2 linked regions of the Homo sapiens genome follow. The protein of the gene in region 1 interacts with the protein of each later gene in a pairwise test. Each region holds a gene or a part of one and is shown on either strand. Other genes may lie near its edges. The genes, in order: ZMYND8 and RERE.

What was found.
Region 2: the proteins of ZMYND8 (region 1) and RERE interact in a two-hybrid assay, tested with the Homo sapiens proteins (one large-scale study listed by BioGRID and IntAct).

What each region holds. Positions count from the first base shown.
Region 1 is NC_000020.11:47,244,967-47,248,775, forward strand, and holds part of ZMYND8 (MYND-type zinc finger-containing chromatin reader ZMYND8), read right to left. Parts: intron 1,552-3,809; coding exon 1,042-1,551; intron 1-1,041. UniProt on the Homo sapiens protein: Chromatin reader that recognizes dual histone modifications such as histone H3.1 dimethylated at 'Lys-36' and histone H4 acetylated at 'Lys-16' (H3.1K36me2-H4K16ac) and histone H3 methylated at 'Lys-4' and histone H4 acetylated at 'Lys-14' (H3K4me1-H3K14ac).
Region 2 is NC_000001.11:8,359,506-8,363,314, reverse strand, and holds part of RERE (arginine-glutamic acid dipeptide repeats protein), read left to right. Parts: intron 1-470; coding exon 471-632; intron 633-1,438; coding exon 1,439-1,552; intron 1,553-1,824; coding exon 1,825-3,203; intron 3,204-3,328; coding exon 3,329-3,551; intron 3,552-3,809. UniProt on the Homo sapiens protein: Plays a role as a transcriptional repressor during development. May play a role in the control of cell survival. Overexpression of RERE recruits BAX to the nucleus particularly to POD and triggers caspase-3 activation, leading to cell death.

The sequences.
Region 1 (3,809 bases):
GAATCACTTGAACCCGGGAGGCGGAGGTTGCAGTCAGCCGAGATTGTACCATTGTACTCCAGCCTGGGCGACAAGAGCCAAATTCTGTCCGCCCCCCCTCCCCAAAAAAGCCAATACACATATCCACCATACTCCATTTTCTAGTGCCCTAAGAAGCACTCAGTATTCTGGCACCAATCACCCAAATACTGTCCTACTACTGTAAGAAAATACACTTGGAGATGCCTAGGTGGCATGAGGGGAGGAAAGCAAAGCTGAAATCATCAAAACCTTTGAAATGAACACTGCTTTTTTTTTAGAGAGGGAGTCTTGCTCTGCCACCCACACTGGAGTGCAGTGGCGCAATCTCAGCTCACTGCAACCTCCGCCTCCTGGGTTCAAGCGATTATCCTGCCTCCGCCTCACGAGTAGCTGGGATTACAGGCGCCTGCTACCACGCCCCGCTAATTTTTGTATTTTAGTAGAGACAGGGTTTCACTATGTAGGTCAAGCTGGTTTTGAACTCCTGACCTCAAATGATCCACCCGCCTCGGCCTCCCCAAGTGCTGGGATTACAGGCGTGAGCCACCATGCCCAGCTTGAAATGAACACTCCTAACCGTTTGAGACTTGTCAAAAGAGAATGAGATGTCTGTGGAATGCAGCACTGAAGGACCATTTGACAAGATCCAAATGTTAACAAACACTTTGGGGAAATAAATGAGCATATTGGAAAAGAAGCTGCTCAGACTAAAAATGACTTGGTCACTAAAAGTAACCATCATTTTCTAACAGACTTCTCTTTCTGTACTCAAAATCAATCATACTGGATACCGAGCAGGTTAAAGGTAGGCAGGCCCATGTTTGAGTCCAGGTCCTGTTCTATGACTAGCTAGGCAACCTTAAACCAAACACAGCTTCACTGTGCCTCTCTCTCAGTGTGTTAGAGGGTCACATAACTTCTGATTTGTTTCTTTAAGGGTCACATAACTTTTGATAGTAAGTGTACGAGGTAGGATTCTAAACCAAATTAAGAAAACTGGAAACAGATACAATCACTTACCATCCTGTTTGGGAGATGGTTCTTTGGGTTCCTTCTTATTTTTTCGACCCTCCCGCCCAGAATGGTCTTCTCCTAAATCTATGACAAGTTCGCTCTCTGAATCAGAGTCCAGGCCCAAATGGACTGTTGGGGAATCCGTCTCATCTTTTCCCTTCAGTTTATCCTTTATGGGGTGAGGTGAAGGTTTTGCCTTTTCGGAAAAGTCCTTCTCAGGCTCAGGGCTGGCCTTGTCCTTGACTGCTCCAGGGTCTGCCTTCTCGCTGGCTGGTGACGTGCTTTTCAGCTCCTCTTTAATCTCCACTGGGTTTGTAGGCTTGGGCTTTTTTTTAACAGCAGATGGCTCTTTGTCCATCTGACAACCTTCTTTGTCCTCTGTGTCTTCTGGCTCGTTCTTAGACTTCTGCTCATCATCACTGATATACTCACTATCGCTACTATCTGACTTCTCAGAATCCTCCGAATCGCTGTGCTCTACGGCCGTATAGACATCTTCCGAGATTTCATTTATGCCTAAATTCAAAAAGAAAACCCAGCATGTGGCGTAGTCACAAAATAAAGAGCAGGATGAAAAATGCAAACATTTTTCCACACCAAATGCTGGAATAAGAAAAGCACGTTTCAAATCGCATCACATTGGCCTAAATGGGGCCAGTAATAATCTCAAGTGGCAACTGGCTACGGCTGCCAAGTGGTACTTGCCTTGGGAGAGGGTTTTGGTTGTTAGGAGACACAGGACCTACCAACGGAGATTTTAAATTTATATGGCACTAAACATGTGGTGCCAAATTTTTGCAACGTTGATAACTAATTGGGATTATTGAGAATGAAGAGGGCTGGAAGGGAACAGCAGGGACAAGCTGTTCAAACTGATCCAATTTACAGATTAGAAAACAGAGGCCCAGGGATATCACCTGCCCTAGGACACAAGACAGAGGCCAGGCCAGAACCCCGGGTTCCTGGCTCCCCACCAACACTCTTCCCTTGGGTTTCCAAAGGGTTAAAGTTCTTGATCCTTTGTGTCTAGGCCAAAGAAAATAAGCCAAAGCCTTAAAGCAGAGGTTGCAAACAGCCCACAAGCCACATCTAGCTTGCAGACATGTTTCATGCGAGAGGCACTGGTTTGGCCCACAGGGTATCTTGTCTGCTTTTAATTTATAAATGTGTTGTCCAACTCACAAATCAGGAAATTTCATATAGAAATCAAAGCAGGGGCTTCTGATGAAAGAGCGGAAAATCTAGCCGCTCTGGGTCACCAGCCTGCCAGGCATTGGCTGGAACAGGAAAGCCACTGGCTCCTCTAGGCGGGGGACACACTTGTCTCCAGGTGACCCGGGTGCCCAGCCCTCCCTCTTGTTCCCTGCACTCGTGGAAAGTCAACTGCCACTCGGTGTGCATTGCTCTTCCACTGGTAAAGGAGTCAAGAGAGAAGTCACATACTTCTGTCTCTTTCAAAAGGAAGAAGCACAAACTAGCAGGTGTTTCATACACACAAACAAAAATGGGCAGAAGCACATTTCTAACAATAGTTCCATTTAACCCATTTACGGCTCCTGCCCCCAACCATATGTTATGCCATCATACTGTAGATAATAATACCATATCCTAAACTTTTAGAAAGAGGAAAGAAAACCCAATCAAGTCTGTGCAATCTCTTCATTCTAGAGCAATGGCCACTGTGAATGGTGCCACTGTCCGACTTGTATACACCAAAAAGAAACCTGCAAAAATACCAGAGCCATGAACAGCCCGGGGCATGGGGGATCAGCTGGATCATTGGGGAATGTATCTGCCTCCACCAGGGCTCAATCAAAAACACAAGTCGAGCCAGGCATGGTGGTGCACACCTGTGGTCCCAGCTACTCAGGAGGCTGAGGCAGAAGAACTGCTTGAACCCAGGAGTTCAAGGCTAGCCAGGGCAACACAGGAAGAACACAAGCCAAAATACAAACACCCAGATCTGGTATAATTCTGGGATCCTAGGCTTGTGCTACTGGTAGGTAATGATTGGAAACAAGAAGGAAAAGTGTAAGCACATATGTGATAGGAAAAGCTTGGGTACTGCAGTCCAAAGGACATGAATTCAAATCCTGCTTTTCTGTTTTTATTACTGGTGTGACCCTGAACAAGTTATTTATCTCTCTGAGCCTCAGTTTCTCTATCCGCAAAATGGGACTGATAAAAGTATCAACCTCCCAAGACAATCTATATGCAGTGCTTAGCATAGTGTCCAAGGAAACACTCAGTAAATGGAAATAATAAAATTCTTATTAGCAATAAAAACAAATCAAGAGTTGGGCCAGCTGCATGGAAGGACCCAAGAGGATTATTTAAATGGCATGCCAAATTTCACCCATGCCACCCAATGTCCTCACCAAACAGGCAACCCAACGGGAGCTGTTGTCCTCTGGATAGCCCCAGATGGGTCCCTAACTCTAGCTGCTTTCTCACCTGAAGATGCAGAGCACCCACTGACACTCAGAGGAGCTTGCTCTCCAGAGGCCCAGCCATCCCCCACTTCTTTACAAATGCCCTCCTAGCTTTACTTACTTATTCAACAAACATTCCAGAGCATCTACCATGTGCACAGACCAAGTACCATAGAGAAGGCAAATCCTCATAAAACGGCCTCCCTGCCCTCAAGGAGCTTCCAGTCTAGATTGGGAGGGACACCCCCACACAAAGGGACCATTGCTACTTCCGAGCAATGAAGTACCAAAGGAGGAGGGCAGATGGGGAGGGCAGTCAGGGGAGACTTCCTGGAGGAGGTG
Region 2 (3,809 bases), on another chromosome or scaffold:
GAGCTGCTTTACTTGACAGCTTCATCTCTTTGGGTCACTTCCTGTCCTGTCAGATTAAATCCACAAGTGTTTGATTTCATTTGGTTTGGTTGGGAGAATGGACGGTTATGAGGAATAAACAGAAAGGGTGTAGGGTGCTTTAAAGATGGCCCCAGGCGACTTTCTGCCGCTCAGAAAGTGTGGTTCATTTCCAGCACACGTTGTTCAGGACAGTCCCTTGGGATGAGTGCTTTAGGTTTGAGAACCGCCCTCTGGCGTGAGCCCACTGATTTCCCCACCTCTTCCCTGAGCTCCACACCGACCTTCATGCAGCCAGGGACAGGCAGGGCGGCCTGTTGTTTGCCAAGGTCTGGGATTTGCTGAGAGGCTGATAGGGTGTGCCTTCAGGCTTCTGCCTGTGGGTTGGGCTCAGGTGGGTCCACATGGGGACTGGGAATCTGGTGTCACCAGTCTTCGGTTTGGGTGGGCAGATGTCGACACTACGCAGTGGTCGGAAGAAGCAGCCAGCCAGCCCTGATGGTCGCACCTCACCCATCAATGAAGACATCCGCTCCAGCGGCCGGAACTCCCCCAGCGCTGCCAGTACCTCCAGCAATGACAGTAAAGCAGAGACAGTGAAGAAGTCGGCCAAGGTCAGGTGCTGGGGGGATAGTAGGGCCTACTCTGTCCCTCCCTCACATTAAAACTGGTTTGCTGGTATTCGTGATCAGCTCCCTCAGACACGAGGATGCAGCTCATTCATGGAGCCTGTCTGGACACCAGCATTGTCCTGGCCTAGGGGCTGCAGACCGAAGGCTGGGGGCCTAGAGAAGGGGGCTCGAGCACCAACTCTTGGGGGCCACCTCTGCCTCAAGCTTCCCAAGTTCTCAGAAAGTGTGGGGAGTGGTTAGAACGGCTCCCTCCAGAGCCAAGTACAGTCCTCCCTTGGTATCCATTAGAGATTGGCTCCAGAGCCTCCACCGCCCAGGATACCAAAATCCACAGGTGCTCAAATCTCATATACATCGACACATGGTTTGCATGTGACCAGTCACATCCTCCTGTAGACTCTAAATCATCCCTAGGTTACTTCTACTGCCCAGTGCAATGTAAATGCAGTTTAAACAGTGGTTCCACTGTCTAGTTCAGGAGATAATGACAAGAAAACATTGTGTGCACGTTCAGTATAGATGTAACCATCACAGTCCTGCCTACATTTTCAGTCCATGGTTGCTTGAATCTGAGGATGCAAACCCACAGGTGCAGAGGGCTGGCTCTCATTCCCACCCCCAGATACGTGTTCCTTCTTGGCCCCAGTTGACCCTTCTAGAGCTTTTTGCTCCTGGAGATGGAACTCAGAATGAGGGAGCAAAGTGTCTGCAAACCGTCATTTCCTTGCTGAGGCTGATGGGATGGTCTCCCTTGGCCTGATTGCTCCTTGTGGGCTTTTCCCCTGCAGAAGGTGAAGGAGGAAGCCTCTTCCCCTCTTAAGAGTAACAAACGCCAGCGGGAGAAGGTGGCCTCTGATACGGAGGAGGCTGACAGGACCAGCTCCAAGAAGACAAAAACGCAGGTGAGGTTTGCTGCTGAGCCTTGCTGAGTAAAGCTAATGCTTCTTCAGAAGCCCCCAGCCGGGGTTCTCCCTAGTTGGTGGCCGTGCCCTGTCTCCTAGGGTGGGGCTGGAGTGGCCTTTGACACTGGCTGGGTCAGGGCACGACCTGTGGTCCCGGAGCCAAGCTTGCTGCTTCATCTGCACAAACATTACTGTGTGTCCGGCACTGGTGGTGCAGAGCAGACAGGGCTCTGCCCTCCTGGGACTTCCATCCTTCCCTTCTCTGACTCCAGGAGATCAGCAGGCCCAACTCGCCATCTGAAGGTGAGGGAGAGAGTTCAGACAGTCGCAGCGTCAACGATGAGGGTAGCAGTGACCCCAAAGACATCGACCAGGACAATCGCAGCACGTCCCCGAGCATCCCCAGCCCCCAGGACAATGAGAGTGACTCGGACTCGTCAGCCCAGCAGCAGATGCTGCAGGCCCAGCCCCCAGCCTTGCAGGCTCCCACTGGGGTCACCCCAGCTCCCTCCTCAGCTCCTCCAGGGACCCCTCAGCTGCCCACGCCAGGGCCCACGCCCTCTGCCACTGCAGTTCCCCCACAGGGCTCCCCCACGGCCTCCCAGGCCCCTAACCAGCCACAGGCTCCCACAGCGCCTGTTCCCCACACCCACATCCAACAGGCACCGGCCTTGCACCCCCAGCGGCCGCCCTCACCGCATCCCCCGCCGCATCCCTCGCCACATCCCCCGCTGCAGCCTCTGACTGGGTCGGCGGGCCAGCCTTCTGCACCCTCTCATGCCCAGCCCCCACTGCACGGTCAGGGCCCACCCGGCCCTCACAGCCTGCAGGCTGGGCCCCTGCTGCAGCACCCAGGCCCCCCACAGCCCTTTGGCCTCCCTCCCCAGGCCTCCCAAGGCCAGGCCCCTCTGGGGACCTCCCCAGCAGCAGCGTACCCTCACACCTCCCTGCAGCTGCCAGCCTCTCAGTCAGCGCTGCAGTCCCAACAGCCTCCACGGGAGCAGCCCCTGCCACCAGCGCCCTTGGCCATGCCCCACATCAAGCCCCCGCCTACCACTCCCATCCCCCAGCTGCCGGCGCCACAGGCCCACAAGCACCCTCCCCACCTCTCGGGGCCCTCACCCTTCTCCATGAATGCCAACCTGCCTCCCCCTCCAGCCCTGAAGCCCCTGAGCTCCCTGTCCACACATCACCCCCCGTCGGCTCACCCCCCACCCCTGCAACTCATGCCTCAGAGCCAGCCATTGCCCTCCTCGCCCGCCCAGCCCCCCGGGCTGACCCAGAGCCAGAACCTGCCCCCGCCCCCTGCCTCCCACCCCCCTACAGGCCTCCACCAGGTGGCCCCCCAACCCCCGTTTGCTCAGCACCCCTTTGTCCCTGGAGGCCCTCCTCCCATCACCCCTCCGACCTGCCCCTCCACCTCTACCCCACCGGCGGGACCTGGCACCTCGGCCCAGCCACCCTGCTCTGGTGCGGCGGCTTCAGGAGGCAGCATAGCGGGGGGGTCGTCCTGCCCACTCCCCACCGTCCAGATCAAGGAGGAGGCTCTGGACGACGCTGAGGAGCCTGAGAGCCCCCCTCCCCCACCAAGGAGCCCGTCCCCGGAGCCCACTGTGGTGGACACCCCCAGTCACGCCAGCCAGTCAGCTAGGTACGCTTCCTAGGGCTCCAGGACGGGTCAGGCACAGGTGGGCTGGTGGGGGCAAGTTCTGGTGGGAGGGAGGGCCGGGGTGGGTCTCGGCAGGAGCTCCCAGCAAGATCTGTGGCTTTTCTCAGGTTCTACAAACACCTGGACCGGGGCTACAACTCGTGTGCCCGGACAGACCTGTACTTCATGCCTCTGGCCGGGTCCAAGCTGGCCAAGAAGAGGGAGGAGGCCATTGAGAAGGCCAAGCGCGAGGCTGAGCAGAAAGCCCGAGAGGAGCGAGAGCGGGAGAAGGAGAAGGAGAAGGAGCGGGAGCGGGAGCGAGAGCGGGAGCGCGAGGCAGAGCGGGCGGCTGTGAGTCCAGGGTTGGCGAGGTGTGACGGGGGGCGCTGGTCCATCCTGCGCCTGGGAGCCACGCTGGGCCACCGAGCTCTGCCCTTGGCTGCCTGACTCGGCCTCCTGGCAGCTAGAGGGTTGGGTGCTATTTACACCCTGTCTCCACACCTCTGACGGGTGCTGCACATCCGAAGCTGCCGGGGTAACTGCGCATGGCAGGTCTAGGCTGACTCCCAGCAGTGACTGTGCGTCCTCCTACCGGAGGGCCTTCGAGGA